Homo sapiens: one gene and its partners. The protein of the gene in region 2 interacts with the protein of the main gene of each other region in a pairwise test. Each region holds a gene or a part of one and is shown on either strand. Other genes may lie near its edges.

Region 1 (7,150 bases), on a different chromosome or scaffold from region 2:
ATTTCTTAGTAGGGGTTTCAGTTACGTAGGAGTATGCATTTGTCAAAATTTAGCTAATATTCACTGAAGATGTGTATTATTTGGCCAGGAGCAGTGGCTCACGCCTGTAATACCAACACTTTGGCAGGCCGAGACAGAAGGATTGCTTAAGCCCAGGAATTCAAGACCAGCCTGGGCAACACAGTGAGACCTCGTCTCTACAAAAAATAAAAAAAATTAGCTGGGCATGGTGACAAACCCATTTAGTCCTAGCTACTGAGGAGACTGGGGCGGGAGGATCACTTGAGTCTGGGAAGTCAAGGCTGCAGTGTGCCATGATTGCACCACGGCACTCCAGCCTCTGTGACAGAGTGAGACCCTGTTTAAAAAAAAAAAAAAAGTGTGTATTTCATTGTTACATAATTTTACATCAAAAGAAAACTGTAAGCAAATATTGAACCCTAGTTAATGACATGCATGCTAATGTATTTAGATCAAAGTGAAACAATGTCTGCAATTTATTGAGGAATGCATCAGAAAAATAAAATGAGTTGATGGGCAGGTACAGTGATAAACAAATGCTAGATATGGGATAAAACAAGTATAGCCAGGCCAGGCAGGGTGGCTCATGAGTGTAATCCCAGCACTTTGGGAGGCCGAGGTGGGCGGATCATCTGAGGTCAGGAGTTCTAGACCAGCCCCACCAACATGGTGAAACCCTATCTCTACTAAATACAAAAACTTAGCCAGGCGTGATGGCACATGCCTGTAATCCCAGCTGCTGGGGAGGCTGAGGCAGGAGAATCGCTTGAACAAAGGAGGCGGAGGTTGCAATGAGCCGAAATCACGCCATTGCACTCCATCCTAGGTGACAGAGTGAGACTCCGTCTCAAAAAAAAAAAAAAAAAAAACAAGTATAGCCAACGTTAGTGGCAGAATCTAGGTGCAAGTATTCACTGCAAAATTCTTTCAACTTTGGTGTACTCAAAAATTTTTTTTTTTTTTTTTTTTTTGAGACAGAGGCTCCCTCTGTCGCCCAGGCTGGAGTGCAATGGCGCAATCTTGGCTCACAGCAACCTCTGCCTCCCGGGTTCAAGCGATTCTCCTGCCTCAGCCTCTGGAGTAGCTGGGATTACAGGCACACACCACCATGCCCTGCTTATTTTTGTATTTTTGTAGAGATAGCATTTCGCCATGTTGGCCAGGCTGGTCTTGAACTTCTGATCTCAGGTGATCTGCCTGCCTTGGCCTTCTAAAGTGCTGGGATTAGAGGCGTGAGCACCGTGCCTGTCCCAAAAATTTTCATCATAAAATGCTGAGGGTGGAAGAATGTGCTGGAAAAAGCAAACACGGAGGCTGCACATACCTCTTTCAAGAAAGACGGACAATACTAAGTGAGAGGGGGAGCCTTAGAAAGGAACTTGAACTCAGCCTGATATTAGAAGTGCACAGGCAGGTGGGCTATGGTTATTGTCTATACCCAGTAGCATGAAAAGTAAAAGCTATGTAAAGGTGATGTATCTAATGGCAGTAATAAATTAGCTAGACATAATCATATCTAGGGCATTTTCAGACATCTGACAGAAAATCAACATGCACCATAACTGACACTTAGACCTGACCAAGGCATCTCATTAAGAACATGTACCCTTGGCCGGGTGCGGTGGCTCACGCCTGTAATCCCAGTACTTTGGGAGGCCGAGGTAGGTGGATCACCTGAGGTTGGGAGTTTGAGACCAGTCTGACCCACATGGAGAAACCCCGTCTCTACTAAAAATACAAAATTAGCCGGACTTGGTGGCGCATGCCTGTAATCCCAGCTACTTGGGAAGGCTGAGGCAGGAGAATCGCTTGAACCTGGGAGGTAGAGGTTGTGGTGAGCCGAGATCGCGCCACTGCACTCCAGCCTGGGCAAGAGCAAAACTGTCTCAAAAAAAAAAAAAAAAAAAAAAAAAAAGAACATGTACCCTTGGCCAGGCACGGTGGCACACAGAGGCACACATTGGTCAGGACTTCGGGAGGACGAGGCGGGTGGATCATGAGGTCAAGAGATCAAGACCATTCTTGCCAACATGGGGAAACCCCATCTCTACCAAAAATAAAAAAATTAGCCGGGCATGGGAACACGCACCTATAGTCCCAGCTACTTGGGAGGCTGAGGCAGAATTGCTTGAACCCAGGAGGCGGAGCCTGCAGTGAGCTGAGGTCATGCAACTGCACTCCAGCCTGGGCAGCAGAGCAAGACTCCACCTCAAAAAAAAAAAAAAAAAAAAATGTACCCCACCACATAAACCAACAAGGGAAACATTTCAGTTTCCACACCTGACCAGAGAGCTCATGGTGACAACACACAGGAAGCAAATTTGATTTTTTGAAAAAAACCTGTATGGAATTTTAAACTATAGAATAGACATAAAGATTTAAATAAAGGCTTCTCTCTTTTTTTTCTCCAAGGTACAAAAACAACATGTGAAATGGTTATCTCCCACTCCTCAACTAGGTTTCCCTTAAGAACAGTGACACCACGGGTTTAGGCTGACCAGTCTTCTCACTTTCAGAAAAGTGAAAAACCTCCTTGGGTTACAAGACACACCATCATCCTAAGCTGCAAACAAAAGCCCAAATTCCATGTTCCTATTATGCTTATTAAAGGGGATCACTTTCATTGCACATACATCTAATGCCTATGGTCAAATGCCCTAATTCTTAACATAATCCAAGCAAAAAATTGTTACTGTTTGGGCACACTTGGGAGAAAAAAAAAGGTCACATTTTTGGCACAGACACAAGGCTAAGGAAAAAAGTTCTTATTTTTACAAAACAAACAAACAAAAAATCCTAATGGTTCCATTGACAAATCCAAATGTAAACTCCCTCATACCTGTAGAATCATTTGAAGAGCAGTTGCTGTTCTTGATTGAAAGATAAAAAAGCCAAGGAGTGCGAAGCGCGCTAACAAAGATCCACTGTTCACAAGGACACAGCGATGCATGCAGAGGACATGGCTGGGCTCACTGCTCCCGCCACAGATCCCAGAGCACAAAGCCTGTCCCAGATGAAATGAATGACATCCCTGACTGTGCCAGCTCCCAAAACACCATACATGTTCTCCCAACCACAAAGAGTGTGCTGTGATTTATGGTTTACATACAGCACAGTGAGGGTTGTCCTGTCACTCTGAGCAGCTCGTCCGTGGCCATGTTGACAGTGTAGACTTGGTCCTCAGAACTCACCCCAGAGACCCTAAGGCAGCCAGCAGATGAGGCCAGAATGACCAGCAACATAAGGCTTGTTACTCTTCTGTCTTGATGAGTTACTACTGCACTTCTATCTACAAACTGAACTCTAGGGTTTGCTTCAAAATCACCTGGTGCATTAGCCTTCTTGGGCTGCCAGGACTAAGTATTATAGACTTGAGTGGCTTCAATAATAGAAACTTATTCTCTTAGAGTCTAGATGCTGAAAGTCCAAGATCAAGGTAAATTTAGCAGGGTGGTTTCTCCTGAGGTCTCTCCTTGGCTTGCAGATGGCTGCCTTCTCCATGAGTCCTCCAATGATCATTCCTCTCTGTGTCCTAATAACTTCCTATAAGGACATCCATCAGATTGGATTAGGGCCCACACAATTACCTCATTTTACCTCAATCACCTCCTTAAAGACTCCATCTTCAGGCCAGGCATGGTGGCTCAAGCCTATAATCCCAGCACTTTGGGAGGCCGAGGTGGGTGGATCACGGAGTCAGGAGATTGAGACCATCCTGGCTAATACGGTGAAACCCCATCTCTACCAAAAATACAAAAAAATTAGCCAGGTGTGGTGGCGGGCACCTGTAGTCCTAGCTACTCAGGAGGCCGAGGCAGGAGAATGGCGGGAACCTGGGAGGCGGAGCTTGCAGCGAGCCAAGATTGCACCACTGCACTCCAGCCTGGGTGACAGAGCAACAAGACTCCGTCTAAAATAAAAACAAATAAAAAAAAAAAGACTCCATCTTCAAATACAGTCACATCCTGAGGTCCTGGAAGTAGGGGCTTCAGCACATGACTCTGAGGGGACACTATTCGGCCCACACAGGCAGGAAGCAGGAATGAGGAGAAGGTGCACATGAAACTGACTGCCCACACATGGGCACAGGGGACTTCGTTACATGATTTTTTTTCTTTACATTTGCTTTTGAAGTTTTCATAAAGGTGTTCCTGATCACTCTTACCAAAGCCTGCTCCCACCATCCATCCCCGGGCTCCACTTCCTGCTCTGCAGCCACAGGCTCACCGTACACATTTCAGTCTCCAGCATCTGTGTCTGACACCATTGGTGCTAATAAACAATAGTTTAATGGACAAGTGAATGCATGATGTGGAACACCTCCAGTGGCTTCAAGTGCATACAGAACCAACACCCAACTTCCCAGCCCAAGGACTTCCCAGGACTGGGGGGTCCTCTCCACCTCATCTCTGCTTCTGAACTGCAGGACACAGTCCCGGTCTCAACCTGGCTGGAAGTGGCTGCTGCCTGCCCCATGTCTCTTCTGACATCCTAGGTCTGCCTTTAGTCTCTAATTTTAGGTGTAAGTGACCTACTTTCCAAAGTGCAATGTCCCTAACCCTCTTCTCAGTGGGCTAAGCACATAATAGGCAAGGCATGACCAAGTTATCTCACTAAAAACTTGTATCGCCACCACGTAAACCAACAATAGAGGGTGATTTAAATGCTCAATAGTTAGGTTTATAGGACTTAATCATGACCATTTACTTACACTGCAAAGTGACAACAAGGAGGGGGCACTGCTGACGGAAATGAAAAAACTGGAAGATCAAGAGTAAGCGCCCCAGTGGGGCAGACTGCAGACGCCCTTCTCGTCTGCAGGGAAGCCCTTCACTGCAATAATATTGCTAAGAGAAACGTTTTGCTTTACACTATCTTCCTCTGAAAGGATGCTCAGAGCAGCCCTGGAAGGTTCTGATGTGCTTTCTGAATCTAAATTATGACAGAATCTGACAATATGTTGAAAATTAACAAATACATACTATGTAAATGGTAACTCTTCAAGACAGAAAAGTAACCAGCCTTATGTTGCCGATCATTCTGGCCTCACCTACTGGCTGCCTTAGGTTCTCTGCTGAGCACCTCCTGCCTGGTTCTCCAGCCTCCTGACCCTGAGTTACCAAGTTGCCATCCAAGAATCACTGCAATAGCTACCCAAGAGGAAAAATAAAACAAAATATAGCAGCCCCAATTCACCTTCTGAACCCAAGTATGGCTTGTGACAGTTATAGAATCGGTTTAGTGGGTCATGACCATGAGCCTTTTTTTTTTTTTTGAGACGGAGTCTTACTCTTGTCGCCCAGGCTGGAGCGCAATGGCACATTCTCAGCTCACTGCAACCTCCATCTCCCGAGTTCAAGCAATTCTCCTGCCTCAGCCTCACAAGTAGCTAGGATTACAGGCCCCACCACCACGCTCAGCTAATTTTTGTATTTTTAGTAGAGATGGGGTTTCACCATGGCTGGTCTCAGACTCCTGACAGGTGATCCACCCACCTCAGCCTCCCAAAGTGCTGGGATTACCAGTGTGAGCCACCGCACCTGGCCAACCACCAGTTGTAATAGAAAGAAAAAAAAATAGAATTAAAAAATCAGAGCGTTTAAGTGTGGTTCCTTTAAACTTTCACTTCGGTTATACAGACACACACATTTATGTCTGCATCAGGTCAGCATGGAGAAGGTATGGCTTCCTGGTGCCTGCAGTGACCAAATTTTAAAAGGTACTGGTCCAATCCAAGCTTTCAGTTCCTCACAGACACTGGTCCAGCAGTGACTACAGCAGCTGATAGTTCAGGGCCTGTAACCTAGAGGATCTTTTCCCCTCCACTTTTTATTATGGAAATTCTCAAAAATACATAAAAGTAGACAGAACAATATATAACCATTACCAAAGCATTCAGCTATCCCCTTTGTTTCTTCTATTTTGAGTAAAGCAAATCCCAGAAATCATATTATTTCACCTACAAATATCTCAGAATACATGCCTATCAGATCAGAACTTAATTATCATACCCAACAAAATTAATAATTCCTTATTTATTATTTAATATCTAGTCCTACATTTCTAGGGAACTTTATAACCTTTTTTTTCTCTTTTTCTTCTTGAGACAGGGTCTTGCTGTCACTCAGGTGGTGGCACAATCACACTCACTGCAGCCTCGACCTCCAGGGCTCAAGCGATCTTCCCTTCTCAGCATCCCAAGTAGCTGGAACTACAGGCATGCACCACCATGCTCAGCTAATTTTCTTATTTTTTGTAGAGATAGGGTCTCACTACATTGTCCAGGCTGATCTCAAACTCCTAGGCTCAAGTGATCCTCCCACCTCAGTCTCCCAAAGTGCTGGGATTACAGGCGTAGCCACTACACTCAACCTATAACCTTTTTCTACCTTAAACAATGCAAATAAACTAGATGAATGTAAAAATATTTAACTTTGATCAGTGTGAAATCATAGCCACCTGGTGGGGCAACCGAAGACCAGAGGCAGCAGAGAAGCTGAGACCCACAAGGTTAAGGCCACAAGATGGTTTTTTTTTTTTTTTGGAGATGGAGTCTTGCCCTGTTGCCCAGGCTGGAGTACAGTGGCATGATCTCAGCTCACTGCAACCTCCACCTCCCGGGTTCAAGAGATTCTCCTGCCTCAGCCTCCTAACTGGGATTATAGGCACATGCCACCACGCCCAGCTAATTTTGTATTTTTAGTAGAGACGGGGTTTCACCATGCTGGCCAGGCTGGTCTCAAACTCCTGGTGTCAAGTGATCCGCCTGCTTCGGCCTCCCAAAGTGTTAGGATTACCTACACCCAACCCTGACAAGACAGCTTTTTTGGGCTGTGATCTGAGTATAAAAATCCACACAACCCAACTTAAGTGCATCCAAGTTTCTAATAAAAAGGAATTACTGTCAGGTGCGGTGGCTCAGCCACCCAGCACCTTGGGAGGCCAAGGTGGGTGGATCACCTGAGATCCGGAGTTTGAGACTAGCCTGACCAACATGGAGAAACCCCGTCTCTACTAAAAATACAAAAATTAGCTGGGCATGATGGCACACGCCTGTAATCCCAGCTACTCGGGAGGCTGAGGCAAGAGAATCACCTGAACCCGGGAGGCGGAGGTTGCAGTGAGCTGA
Region 2 (7,113 bases):
TAAAAATACAAAAAAAAATTAGCTGCGTGTGGTGGTGGGTGCCTGCAGTCCCAGCTACTCGGGAGGCTGAGGCAGGAGAATGGCATGAACCCGAGAGGCGGAGCTTGCAGTGAGCCGAGATCGCGCCACTGTGCTCTAGCCTGGGAGACAGAGCCGGACCTCGTCTCAAAAAAAAAAAAAAAAAAAAAAAAGATATTATGTTAAGTGAAATAAGCCAGGCACAAAATAACAAATATTGTATGGTTCCACTAACATGAGGTACCTAGGGTAGTCAAATTCATAGAGAAAGTAGAATGGTGGTTGCCAGGGACTGGAGGAAGGGGGAGTGGGGAGCAGTTACTTAATGGGTATGGAGTTTCAGTTGGGCAAGATTAAACATTTCTGGAGATAGAGGATGGTGATGGTTGCACGATAATGTACTTAACAATGGGTAAGATGATATTATGCTATTTTACCACGATTTAAAACATAAAAACAAAACAGAATGCCCATAATGTTCTCTTATACCAAGTGGTGGATGCACCTTCTAAAACAGGCAAGAGACGAGGTAAAAGATGTTTCCCCAATCCTGCCTGTCTCAACCTGTCAGTTCCTCTTGTCCTGCCCAAATCCTCAGTTCTCTCTTTGCAACTTGTTCACTTACTTTTCATCAGATGCCTATTTCAGTGTAGGCCTTGAGCCAGTATTGAGAATGCATTCTCTAGGGGCCAGGCCATTTACCAGCTCCCTCTCATCCACTCCATTTACCTTCCCTCAGCCAATCCTCAGTCCACACATTTTCCGCTTTCTTCTCTCACTCAACATCCATTAAAAAAAAAAATACTTAGTCCATTTGAGCTGCTATAACAAAATACCTTAGACTGGGTAATTTATAACTAATAGAAATTTATTGCTCACAGCTCTAGAGCTGGGAAGTAGAAGATCAAGGCCCCAGCAGGGGCCCATTCCTCATAGATGATGCGTCCTCTATGTTGCTGCATCCTCCCATGATGAAAGGGCAAAAGAGGTGAACAACTCTCTCACACCTCTTTTATAAGGCCACTAACCCCATTCAAGAGGGCTCCACCTCATGACTTAACCATCTCCCAAAGGCTCACCTTGTAATACTGTGACACTGGTGATTAAGTTTTAACATATGAATTTGGGGGTCAGATCACAGCAAATACTTTTGATTTATATTTATTTTAATTTTGAGAGGGTTAGAAGGGGTAATAGGTGGAGTTTTCTAAAGAAAAAGCCATTGCTTGAGTGACTCTAAGGGCAGACACCAACAAGCCATCCTCTAATTAGACTAAAAATATGCAACAGCAACAGACAACCCTCAAATCTCTGTGACTTAACACACCAATAATTTACTTTGTGTTCACATTGCATGTCCACTACAGATCAAGAGGGTCTGCTCCACATGGTCACCTAAGCTTACAGAGGCTCCACCAACTAGAATGCAGTCTCCGTGGTAGTTATAGGAGGGCAAGAGAGTGGAGAATTACAGATTGGCTTTTCATTGTCTCAGCCTAGAAGTAACCTGCATAGCTTCCCCTTACATTTCATTGGTCAGACAGAACCACATGGCCCTGCCTACCTACAAATATTGTATCTGTGAAGCCTGATTATCTCTGCTATAGGTTTTTTACTCTGTGCTCTCACTGTGCCAATAGTGAAATTGTGGCTGTTTCTTGTGAATCTACTCCTATCCCTGGACTCTAAAGAGTGGGGGCCTCATATTACAAATTATGTAACTTTGGTGCCTAGCACAAGACTGGTGCCCAGTGATTGTGGAGTGATTGAACAATCGGACAAAGTAAAGGTGAACCTAAAGAAAGGTGGAGGCAGTGCCTGGGAGGATCAGTTTAGGAGCTTCCCTATCTGAAAAATGAAGCAGGGAAGGCCGAGAAAACAATGCTATCAGTTTTAAAAATGAAACCAAACCTCACTGAATAGAGTGGACAGTCTGTGTGTAACACAACTCATTGTCGGGGTGGGTTTCCATCAACAACAAAACAGACTGCATATGTAGAAGAAAGGGAAAATGGGACCCCCAGGGGCACTACGTGGCTTTGGAAAAAAAATCTGATCTTAGAGCAGCCTCAAGAATAAACTAGGCACAGAACAGTCTGACTTCCCTCTCATAAGTTTTATTTATTTATTTATTTATTTTTTTTTGAGACGGAGTCTCCCTCTGTCGCCCAGGCTGCAGTGCAGTGGCGCGATCTCCGCTCACTGCAAGCTCCGCCTCCCGGGTTCATGCCATTCTCCTGCCTCAGCCTCCCGAGTAGCTGGGACTACAGGCGCCCGCCACCATGCCCGGCTAATTTTTTGCATTTTTAGTAGAGACGGGGTTTCACTGTGTTAGCCAGGATGGTCTTGATCTCCTGACCTCGTGATGCGCCTGCCTTGGCCTCCCAAAGTGCTGGGATTACAGGTGTGAGCCATCGCTTTCGGCCCCCTCTCATAAGTTTTTGGAGCTTAAGAAGGACTAAGGTGCAATCCCTGGGTCACCATGGAAAAACCTTGACTTATCCAGCTGTTTTTTTTTTCTCTTGTAGAAGAAAAAAAGGAATTAACCCTACATAATTACTTCCTATTTCAAGTCAGTTTTATTGACCTCGGTTTGCAAACTAAGTGGGCTCATCCGGATTCTAAAGATATTTAAGGATACTTTCAGTTATAAGTAGGATGACTATCCATCCAGGTTTGAACCTGCTGTTCATGGTTAATTTATTAATAGCATGTCTCACAGTTCATTCTCAGAAATGCTTGGATATGGCCGATAAATTGAAACGTCATCCTAGTTAAAAGTAACGTTTTTAACTGGCTGGAGAAAGGTGACTTGGGGTTCTAGGAAGGGACAGAGGAACAAACATTCTGTTGGCTCAGCACGCCCAGCCTGTGTTGGGCTGGGCACCTTAGAGGACCTGTTTCAGGACTGCGTGACTGGCGTTTTGCTGGGAGTAGCCCAGGTGTTTTAACCACTTCCTGAAGAACAAGGTTCGGTAAAAAGAGGCTGGGGCGTAGGCGTGGGTTCCTGTCCCTGCCATATGCTGTCTTCCTGATCTTCGGAAGTCACTTCAAGCACCTGATCATCAGTTTCCTTATCTGTAAAACTGGAGTAGTAATGTTTCCCTCCAAACGCCGTCGTATTTAATTCATTTAACAGCAGCCACTATTATTCCATTATACAGACGAATAAATAGACGTTATGAGAGGGCAAAGTGCGCTGATCAGGGCTCATAATAATTCTAACAGCTACTGTTTAGGAACCAAGTACTCAAGCAGCCTGTGCACAATCTCTAATTTCTAGAAGAGAAGACGGATACTTGGAAAGAGAACTTGAACAATGTCATGGAACTCATAAATGGCTTGAGAAAGGCTGATCCTAGGAAATCTGCTTCAGAACCCGCGCTCTCACTGCATAAGGCGTATTTCAAGGGAGGAACGGGCAGGCATCTAGCACCACTCTTCGGACTCCCCATCCAGTGCTCTTTTCCTCTTTTCGTTACACTGCACTGCTGGTCGGAAACCCATCGTGGAAGTGGATCAAACACAACAAAGGGCAGGGGGCGTTGGAAAACCGGGCGAAGTCGCGCAGACCGAGACGACCCACCGGCCCCAGCAAATCACCAGGGGCCGAAATCCAGTGTCCTCCTCCCTTCAGCCCAGAAGCCAGGTCACCTTTTAGACTTGCTCTCTTGGCGGGGAGGAAGCGTGGAGCCCCCTGGTCCGGCTAAGAGCTTACGTAAGGCCCGCGGGCGGCTGCGCCCCGGTCTCCCATGGGTGTGCGCAGAGCCCCCGGGCCGGAGCAGGCCTTCCCCTGTCCGCTCCCCCAGTCTCTCGGCCCAGGACCACGGGGGAGTTCAGGACCACCGGCCCCACGCCGGCAGCGTCCGCGTTGGGCGGCGGCGTCCCCCGCAGCCACCCAGCTTCCCGGGGGAGGAGCAGCGCATCGCGCAAGCATCCGGGAGCGGCGGAGGGGGCGGGAGGAAGGGCGAGAGGAGGAAGCGGGATTTAAACGAAAGGCGGTGACGCCACACAAAAGATTTCTATAGGCTCCAGGGAGGTTACGGCCGAGGCGGCGGCGGCGGCGAGCCCGGGGGCGAGGCGCGGACGGGAACAGGAAAAGCCTCCGGCAGCCCCTGCGGGCGGCGGCGCAGCCACGGCCGCGCTCCGAGGTGAAGCCGCGCGCGGAGAGGAAGCGGGTGTTTTCCCCTCTGCCTTTCGGCCCCCGCCCTTCCTTTCAGTTTCTGCCCGCTCGCTCGGAAGTTGGCGGTTGACAAAAATGGCAGGAGCCGGGGCCCGGGCCGGTTGCCGCAGCGCCGCGGGGACCTTCTGAGTTGGCCCGGTGGCAGGGAGACTCGTGCAGGGGCGTCCGATGCGCGGGGCCCGGGGCCTCGGGAGAGCTCAGCTGCTGCGGGCCCCAGACGAGGCGACAGGGATGGACTTGCGTAGACAGCCAGCGCCGGGCCGCCGGGCGCGCGGTCTGGGAGGGCGTGCCGCCGCGGCGCCGGGCCGCGCTCTGTGAACCGGCGAGGCGGGAAGGGGCCGCCGTGGTGCTCGGCACGCCCGGGCGTGTGGCGGGCGGGCGAGAGCTTGAGCGCGATCCGGGCGGCCGCTGTGCGCAATCAGTGCAGGCTCCCGCCCGACTCTGACTCGGCGCGGCCGCGACAGTGCCGGCCACACCCTCTGCCCCGCTGCCGCCGGCGCCGCTTCCCAAGAGCTGGAGGCAGGAGATGCGCCCGGGGCGGCCGCGCGTCCCAGAGAGCCAGCCCCGGCCGCCGTCGCGGGGAAGTGCCGCCTGGTGGGGTCACGGCGCCTGAAGCCCACGTGCGCCGCCGAGCCCGAGGTGGCCTCGAGCGCGGCGGCTGACAGCACAGCCCGCCTGAGCTGCCTCCCGCGCTCCTCCCCGAGGAAAGGATTTTGATTTCAAAGAAAGGAAGGAAGGAAGGACAACTCCCAGCTTCCCCGTCCCGCCCTCCCCGCTCCGAGGGCCGCGCCAGGCCATGCCCAAGAAGGCGGCGGCGGCGGCGAACCAGCAGAAGGGACTTTCCTGGCAGCCCGGCGACGAGGAGCGCGGACAGTGAGTTTGCTCTGCCCCGGTTCATGGTTCCTGCAAGCCCTCTAGGAGGCCGAAAGCTGCAGCCCCTCCCCTTGCCCCGAAGAGCCTTCCGCGTTCTCTCGCCCTCGGGCCCACCCCGCGCCGCCCGGGCTCCCGCCGCCGCAGCCCAGTGCCCTCTGCCCGCGGCGGTGGATGGCATGATGGTGCGGGGAAGGCACCGCGGCCTTGGCCAGCTGAGTCGCGACGGCCGCCGGGGCGGCGGCAGTGGCCGCGGCAGCGGCGGTGGTAGCGGGCTCCCCAGCGGCATGCCAGTGCCCCCCGGGCGCGATGGCTAGCGGCAGCGCCGGGAAGCCCACTGGCGAGGCGGCTTCTCCGGCTCCTGCGAGCGCCATCGGCGGGGCCAGCTCGCAGCCGCGGAAGAGGCTGGTATCCGTCTGCGACCACTGCAAGGGCAAGATGCAGCTGGTGGCTGACCTGCTGCTGCTGTCGAGCGAGGCGCGGCCCGTGCTCTTCGAGGGCCCCGCCTCCTCTGGTGCCGGCGCCGAGTCCTTCGAGCAGTGCCGGGACACCATCATCGCGCGCACCAAGGGGCTCTCCATCCTCACCCACGACGTGCAGAGCCAGCTCAACATGGGCCGCTTCGGGGAGGCGGGGGACAGCCTGGTGGAGCTGGGCGACCTGGTGGTGTCGCTGACCGAGTGCTCGGCCCACGCGGCCTATCTGGCCGCTGTGGCCACGCCGGGCGCCCAGCCCGCGCAGCCGGGCCTGGTGGACCGCTACCGCGTGACGCGATGCCGCCACGAGGTGGAGCAGGGTTGCGCCGTGCTGCGCGCCACGCCGCTGGCCGACATGACGCCGCAGCTGCTGCTGGAGGTGTCGCAGGGCCTGTCGCGCAACCTCAAGTTCCTGACGGACGCGTGCGCCCTGGCCAGTGACAAGTCACGGGACCGCTTTTCGCGGGAGCAGTTCAAGCTGGGCGTCAAGTGCATGAGCACCAGCGCGTCGGCGCTGCTGGCCTGCGTGCGCGAGGTGAAGGTGGCGCCCAGTGAGCTGGCGCGCAGCCGCTGTGCGCTCTTCAGCGGGCCCCTGGTGCAGGCAGTGAGCGCCCTGGTAGGCTTCGCCACCGAGCCGCAGTTCCTGGGTCGCGCGGCAGCTGTGAGCGCCGAGGGCAAGGCGGTGCAGACCGCCATCCTGGGCGGCGCCATGAGCGTGGTGTCGGCCTGCGTGCTCCTGACCCAGTGCCTCAGGGATCTGGCGCAGCACCCCGACGGGGGCGCCAAGATGTCGGACCACAGGGAGAGGCTGAGGAACTCGGCCTGCGCCGTGTCTGAAGGCTGCACCCTGCTATCTCAGGCTTTAAGGGAGAGGTCTTCGCCCAGGACTTTACCGCCAGTGAATTCCAATTCTGTGAATTAGCACCCCACCCCCATACCCCTTCTTCCACCCCCAGACTAAAGGAAGATACTTACTCTCTGCCCCTCTCCATTTATACCAAAGAAATCATAGGTGAAACCCCCTACCCTCCCCAACGTTAAATGCTCGAGAGGAATCTTCCACAAGGCAGGGCCATGCACGCAACCTGCACACGCACTTGGAGGGCCCAGGTGTCTCTCCACCAGCCCCCATGCAGTAGGGACTGGAAGATATGTCATCTGCTGGTTGTGTTATCACTCCCACCCCCTACCCCAGCCCGTCTTCCGGAATTTCTCAACTAAATTTCATTATTGGGCAGGAAGGAGGTCATGGGTTCATTTCATTTTTGTTTTTTGTGTTTTTAATTAAAAGAAAGGTTACCTCAGTTTTCACTCCTTAGACATGGATGTAGCTACCTTTTTTTGTATGTCTTTTTTTTTTTTAAGCAATCGTGTTGAATTAGGAGTATACTTGGTGTGGAAAGAGTATGAATTTGCCATGTGATTTGCAAATGGGGGGAAGCTACTGTGAGCGTGTGTTTTTTTAATTTACACTATAGAGTGATTTTTTTTTCCCCCAACGTCAAGTTTTTACCTTGCATGTACTGGAGTATTTATTTCATCTATTAAAATGTTATGTTTCTCAGA
Region 3 (7,150 bases), on a different chromosome or scaffold from region 2:
GGTGGAGTGGGGCGGGGGCGGGCACCAGCTGCTCCTTCCCCTTCTCCGAGGGCAGCAGACACTGCTATTTACAGAAGGGCAGCTGTGACTGTCACTCAGGCCCAAGGCACTGGAGCCCTGGGCTTCTGTCCCTGCCCTCTGGGTGACCCCGGGTAAGCCCCACCCCACCCGTCACTGGGCCTCGGTTTCCCTTTCTGACAAGGAGTGGAGTCGGGCTTAGGGGTCTAGGATTTCTCCCAGGGAATTAAAGGCAGGGGCCTGGGCAGGAAAAAAGCCCTAGGGAAGTGTAGGGGTGCTGGGACCTGGGGAAAAAGCTCTTCAGAGAGTAGCTGTGTCCCTGGGAAGTCACTTTTCCAGGGCCCATGTGGCTCATGGGCAATGAGCCTTGGGGAGCCCACACCCCTGCACCCCAGCAGACTGAGAGATGGAGAGAGAGCCAAGAAGCGGCGGGTGACTCAGAGAGCACCCAGGGACAGAGTGGGCCCTGATGCGGGAGGTGGGTGTGGGGTCCCCGGTGGTCCCTGGGGGTGCTGTCGGCTGCTGCACCAGCAAAACCTCCCCCTGCCTAAACCTCTCAGTGCCCAAGGACCTCCACTTCCATGTTCCTTTCGTTCTTGGGACCACCAGGGTGGCAGGTATCATTAGATCGGATTTTTTTTTTTTTTTGAGACAGAGTTTCGCTCTTGCTGCCCAGGCTGGAGTGCAATGGCGTGATCTCGGCTTACCACAATCTCTGCCTCCTGGGTTGAAGTGATTCTCCTGCCTCAGCCTCCCAAGTAGCTGTGATTACAGGCATGTAATCCTGTATTTTTATTAGAGACGGGGTTTCTCCATGTTGGTCAGGCTGGTCACGAACCCCTGACCTCAGGTGATCCACCTGCCTCGGCCTCCCAAAGTGCTGGGATTACAGGCATGAGCCACCGCGCTCGGCCCCCAGTTTTTTGTTTTGTTTTGGTTTGGTTTTTTGAGATAGGGTCTCACTCTGTCGCCTAGCTTAGAGGGCAGTGGTGCAGTCTTGGCTCACTGCAACCTCTGCCTCTTGGGTTCAAGCGATTCTCCTGCCTCAGCCTCCCAAGTAGCTTGGACTACAGGTGCGCGCCACCATGTCCTGCCATGTTAGACCAGCTCTGGCACCCGCCAGCTGGGTGACGTTGGGCAGGCCACACTTCCCTCTCTGAGCATCTGTCTGCGCTCTCTTCTGTAATCTGGGGACCATGTGCTCACCTCGCTGGGGTGGGGTACCCAGAGGATGACAGTGTGTCTGTGCAGATGCCCACCAGGCTGGGGTCTGGACACACTGTGGGCTCTCAGAGGGTGGGCACTATTGTTACAGCTATTCCCACTTTCCAAAGCAGGGGGGCCACCTTGGAGAAGACGTGACACTACTGCCAGGGACCTGATGGCCAGCCCCTAAGAGGGGAAGGGTCAGTGCATGCCAGTGAGCAACAATGTTGGTGACAGCCAGAAAGAAGCCTGGCATCCCCCTGGCCAGAAAAGGACCCCCTGGGCAGGGGCTGGGCTGGAGTCTGGCAGCTGAGCTGGGGAAGAGCAGAGCCCCATGGAGTCAGACACAGACCTCCCAGGGAGCCCTCTGCGAATGTGCTCGGTCACTCCTGCCCTCATCCCTGCAGGCCTCGGCTCTGGGAGGTGCCAGGCACCCTTGGGCTGCAGGAGAGGAGGGCAGGTAGCCAGGCTCTTGAACAACATCAAGAACGGTGCCCTGGGCTGGGCACAGTGGCTCATGCTTGTAATCCCAGCACTTTGGGAGGCCAAGGTGGGGGAGGATCTCTTGAGCTCAGGAGTTCCAGACCACTTGAGCAACATAGTCAGATCCCGTCTTTACGAAAAATAAAAAACATTAGCTGGGAGTGGCGGTGTGTGTGGTCCCAGCTACTTGGGATGCTAAGAAAGGACTGCTTGAGCCTGGGAGGTGAAGGCTGCAGTGAGCCATGATTGTACCACTGCATTCCAGCCTGAGTGACGGCCCCTGTCTCAAAACAAAAAGGAAAGAAAGGCTGGACATGGTGGCTCACGACTGTAATCCCAACACTGGGAGGCTGAGGCAAGCAGATCACTTGAGGTAAGGAGTTCAGGACCAGCCTGGCCAACATGGCAAAACCCTGTCTCTCCTTAAAATACAAAAATTAGCCGGGCATCGTGGTGGGTGCCTGTAAATCCCAGCTACCTGGGAGGCTGAGGCAGGAGAATCCCTTGAGCCTGGGAGGCACAGGTTGCAGTGAGCCGAGATCGTACCACTGCACTCCAGCCTGGGTGACAGAGGGACACACACACACGCGCGCGCACACACACACACACACACACACGGACACACACACACACACACACGAAAAGAAAAAATTAGTGCCCCAGAACCCTTTGGTGTAGCCAGAGGACCCTTCCTCGCAAAGGAAGAACCGGGGTTGAAGGGGTGACTTGTTCAAGAGGCATGACAGGCCCACCTCCCAGGGTCCTGGCACCAAATACTTCACCCTGTCAACCAGATTAGACCACGCGGTCCCCAAAGGCAGTCCCTGGCACCCTCAGCTGCTGCCCAGGTGCCTCCTCTGGTCCCCCCAGGCTAGGTGGGATTATGGGGTAACTCACTTTGGGCGGCACGAAGAACTCCAGGCGGAAGCGTTCCTCGGCCACAGCCCTGCGCAGGAGCAGGCGGCACTTCTGCCACTGAGCCGAGCCCCCGGAGCCCGCGGCCGCGTCGTCGGCCACCATGAAGCGCAGCGCCCCCTCGCGTTGAATGTCCACCAGCTCCACCTTGGCAGCCAGCGTCCGCGACAGCCTCAGGCGCCGCGTCCACTTGTCGCGGGGCTCGGCGGTGCGCGGGGCAGCTGCCGCGTCGGGCTCGGGCGAGGCGCGCCGGTGCCACATGTCGCGCACGCCGTCCACCACGCACAGGCTCATGTTGCGCAGCGAGAAGCCCTTGCGAACGCGGGCCTTGGTGGCCGCGTGCGTGGACACGTCCTCCGAGCTCCGCGAGTGGCCGTAGGGCGCCGCCTTGAGTGCAGAGGTGTCCGCGAGCTCCGGCTCCATGGCCTCTGCGCTCACGGCCGCGCCCCGAGTCGTCGGCCCAGCCACCAGCACGCGGCGCACCTCCTCGCCGAAGACGTCCAGGAAGTTGGCGGCGAAGTGGCGGGAGAAGGAGGCGCCGGCGTCGGGCGTGTCGTAAGCTGGGTTGTCCCGCAGGAAACGGCAGAACTTGTGCGCAAAGTCCACGGCGGCCGCCTGCGCATGCAGCTCGCAGAACTGCCGCCAGTCCGGGACCGGGACCGGGACTGGGACCGGGGCGGCTGCGGCGGGGCCAGGGCCGGCACCATTCATGGCTTCCGTCCCATCGCAGCCACCTGCGGCTTCGGGCGAGAAGAGCGCGCAGTGACTTTCAGGCCTGTGATCAATGCGCCCACCTGTCCCCTCCTTCCAGCTCCCCTAGGACTCTCTGGGGCTGTGTGGGTGTGTGTGTACATGCACACGTGTGTGTTGTGGGACTACAGCAGGCAGCCATTCCAAGCAGCATGGATGTGTGTAAAGAGAAAGACAACTGGGGCCGGGCGCGGTGGCCCACGCCTGTAATCCCAGCACTTTGGGAGGCCGAGGTGGGTGGATCACCTGAGGTTGGGAGTTCGAGATCAGCCTGGTCAACATGGTGAAACCCCGTTTCTACTAAAAATACAAAAATTAGCCGGTTAGCCGGGTGTGGTGGTGCACGCTGTAACCCTAGCCATCGAAAGGCTGAGGCAGGAGAACTGCTTGAGCCCAAGAGGCAGAGGTTGCAGTAAAAATACAAAAATTAGCCAGGAGTGGTGGCACACGCCTGTAGTCCTAGCCACTCCGGAGGCTAAGGCAGGAAAATCACTTGAACCCAGGAGGCAGAAGTTGCAGTGAGCCGAGATTGCGCCACTGCACTCCCGCCTGGGCGACAGAGGGAGACTGCAAAAAATAAGAGAAAGACAACTGGGGAGGCAGGAGGTGGTGTCTGCAGAAGGGGCAGTCCTGCATTCATTCTCTCCCCAAATAGTAGTCTCAGGGACCTCAGGGTCATTCCTGGGGCTGGCAGAAGAGGCTGGGATGATGGATGCTTTCAAGTGGGGTCCCCATGAGCCTCTGGTGACCTCACTTCCTCAGTGACCTCTTCTGATGTTCCCCAAAGCCCGGTAGAAAGGAAGAAATCACATGGAATCCTGCTGGCTGGACCTTTGAAATATACCGAGGACTCAGCTCCTTCCTCCAGGTCCAGGCTGCCGTCCTGGGATTCGCATAACTATTTTTCCTGCATGCAGCACTCCAGCAGCTGCTTTATGGTCCCCGGGATCCTGATCTTACTTCCTCTAAAGTCTGTTCTCCTCCCAGGAGCCCAGTCATTTCCAAAACTCAAGACTGCCATGTGCGGTGGCGCATGCCTGTAATCTCAGCACTTTGGGAGGCCGAGGCGGGTGGATCAGGAGGTCAAGAGATTGAGACCATCCTAGCCAACATGATGAAACCCCGTCTCTACTAAAAATACAAAAATTAGCTGGGCATGGTGGCATATGCCTGTAGTCCCAGCTGACTGAGAGGCTGAGGCAGGAGAATCGCTTGAACCCAGGAGGCGGAGGTTGCAGTGAGCCGAGATCCCACTACTGCACTCCAGCCTAGGTGACAGAGCCAGACTCCACCTCAAAAAAAAAAAAAAAAAAAGCCAGGCGCGGTGGCTCATGCCTGTAATCCCAGCACTTTGGGAGGCCGAGGCGGGCGCATCACGAAGTCAGGAGATCGAGACCATCCTGGCTAACACAGTGAAACCCCATCTCTACTAAAAATACAGAAAATTAGCCGGGCGTGGGGGCAGGCACAGGCTGAAGCAGGAGAATGGCGTGAACCTCGGAGGCGGAGCTTGCAGTGAGCCGACATCGCGCCACTGCACTCCAGCCTTGGCGACAGAGCGAGACTCCATCTCAAAAAAAAAAAAAAAAAAAAAAAAGAGAAGAAAGAAAGAAAAAGTAATAACAAAAAAATTGTCTTGGCCGGGCACATTGGCTTACACATTGGCCTGTAATTCCAGCACTTTGGGAGGCCAAGGTGAGCAGATTGCTTGAGCTCAGGAGCTCAAGACTAGCCTAGGCAACATGGCAAAAGCCTGTCTTTACAAAAAATACATAAAATTAGCTGGGCAAGGTGGCACACACCTGTAGTCTCAGCTATTCAGGACGATCACCTGAGCCTGGAAGGTTGAGGCTACAGTGAGTTGTGATGGGGCCACTGTACTCCAGCCTGGGGACAGAGCGAGACCCTGTCCCAAAAAATAAACAAAAAAAGTTGATCTGAATGTGGTGACATGCCTATAGTCCTAGCTACTCAGGAGGATTACCTTAGCCTGGGAGGTTGAGGCTACAGTGAGCTGTGATGGCACCACTGTACTTCAGCCTGGGCAACAGAGCAAGACTCTGTCTCAAAAACAACAACAACAACCAATCTGGATGTGGTGGCATGCCTACAGTCCTAGATACTAAGGAGACTGAAGTGGCAGAATCGCTTGAGCCCAGGATTTGGAGGCTGCAGTGAGCTATGATCGTGACAATGCACTTCACTTGGTGATAGAGACTCTGACTCAAAAACAAAACAAAACAAAAACAAAAACCCAAAACCAAAATACAAGACAGATCACATCCCTCCTCTGCACAAAATCCTGCAGTGGTTCGTATTACAGTCAGAGTAAAAGCCAAAGCCCTATCCACAGCCCCTAGGGTCTGACATAATCTGCCTCTGTTTACCCCTCTGGATATACCTCCTGCCACTCTTCCCTGGCTGGACCTGCCTCCTTGCCCTCCCAGAAGCATAGCAGCCAAATTTCTACCTCAGGACCTTTGCACATGCCTGGAATGCTCTTTCCTCCACATTCCCTCACCTTCTTCAGGTTTCTGCTCAACCAATGGCTTGGCGGATAGCCTTCCCTGACCACTCTTGAGAATGACAAATCCCTCTGATGACAATACTCCCTCTGATGCGTTCATGCACTCTGCCTATTTTCACCATTATCCTTATTGCCGGCTGTCATATCATATATTTAGTTGCTTGGTTGTGTGTCCCCTCCACCCCCTTCCCCCGAGAATGCCAGTTTCACAAGGCAGGGATTTTGCCAGTCCTAGAAGCGGCTGTGTCCTCAGTGCTGGGCATACAGCAGGCGCTTGGGAAACACTGACTGAATGAACAAATGAATGAGTTTGGCACACCAGGCATGTCACAGCTGTCACCGCCTAAGCCCTCACTTGGGGCCTAAGGACAAACAGCTTGTTAGTGACAAGACAGGTCCAGGGTTCTCGCCCAGGTCTGCAGTGACTCCAGGACTTGAGGGGTCTCCTCCTAGTGTGGATCAAATATGGTAGTTCCCTCTCGTTCAAGGGGTATATGTCCCAAGAACCCCAGCAGATGCTTGAAACTGGCTAATACTGAACCTCTGTATACTGCGTGTGTGTGTGTGTGTGTGTGTGTGTGTGTGTGTGTAGAGATGGGATCTCACTCTATTGATGAGGCTGGTCTTGAACTCCTGGGTTCAAGCAATCCTCTGGCCTTGGCCTCCCAAAGTGCTGAAATTACAGGCACGAGCCACTTGCACCTGGCCCGCTACATTTTTTTTGGATCTAATAACCCAGACAACTCCTAAGTGGCGAGCGGGTCGTATCCAGAGTGCGGATATGCCAGACAAAGGGATAATTCACATCCCAGGCAGAACAGCGGGATGGTTTGAGACTTCATCCTGCTACTCAGACTGGCCTGCAATTTACATTTGTATTTGTATGTTTACTTCTGGGATTTTCTATTTAATATTTTCAGACCTCTGTTGACCACGGGTATCTGAAGCCTTGGAAAGCAAAGCTGTGGATAAGAACCAAGCGTTTTTTTGTTTTTTGTTTTTTTTTGAGACAGAGTCTTGCAGTGTCTCCCAGGGTGGAGTGCAGTGGCGAGATCACAGTTTACTGCAGCCTCCAACTCCTGGGCTCAAGCGATCCTCCCGCCTCAGCCTTCCGAGTAGCTCAGACTACAGGCAAGAGCTACCATGCCTGGCTAAAGGGACCAAGTTTTTGTACGGACATTGAAGACCTTGCTTCTTTCCATCACAATGGCCTGCACGCTTCTACTTACATTCCCACGTTCTGGAATCTGG

Evidence for each region.
Region 1: the proteins of TLNRD1 (region 2) and CCM2 interact in binary tests that used the Homo sapiens proteins (3 or more experiments, as listed by UniProt).
Region 3: the proteins of TLNRD1 (region 2) and SH2B2 interact in binary tests that used the Homo sapiens proteins (3 or more experiments, as listed by UniProt).

What each region holds. Positions count from the first base shown.
Region 1 is NC_000007.14:45,003,143-45,010,292, reverse strand, and holds part of CCM2 (cerebral cavernous malformations 2 protein), read right to left. Parts: intron 1-7,150. UniProt on the Homo sapiens protein: Component of the CCM signaling pathway which is a crucial regulator of heart and vessel formation and integrity. May act through the stabilization of endothelial cell junctions. May function as a scaffold protein for MAP2K3-MAP3K3 signaling.
Region 2 is NC_000015.10:80,996,892-81,004,004, forward strand, and holds the start of TLNRD1 (talin rod domain-containing protein 1), read left to right. Parts: upstream 1-4,031; 5' UTR 4,032-5,250; coding exon of another isoform or gene 5,251-5,380; coding exon 5,381-6,469; 3' UTR 6,470-7,113. Other genes in the region: umcharacterized LOC128071545, read left to right, coding at 5,251-5,388. UniProt on the Homo sapiens protein: Actin-binding protein which may have an oncogenic function and regulates cell proliferation, migration and invasion in cancer cells.
Region 3 is NC_000007.14:102,296,734-102,303,883, reverse strand, and holds part of SH2B2 (SH2B adapter protein 2), read right to left. Parts: intron 3,363-7,150; coding exon of another isoform or gene 3,334-3,362; coding exon 2,605-3,333; intron 1-2,604. UniProt on the Homo sapiens protein: Adapter protein for several members of the tyrosine kinase receptor family. Involved in multiple signaling pathways. May be involved in coupling from immunoreceptor to Ras signaling. Acts as a negative regulator of cytokine signaling in collaboration with CBL.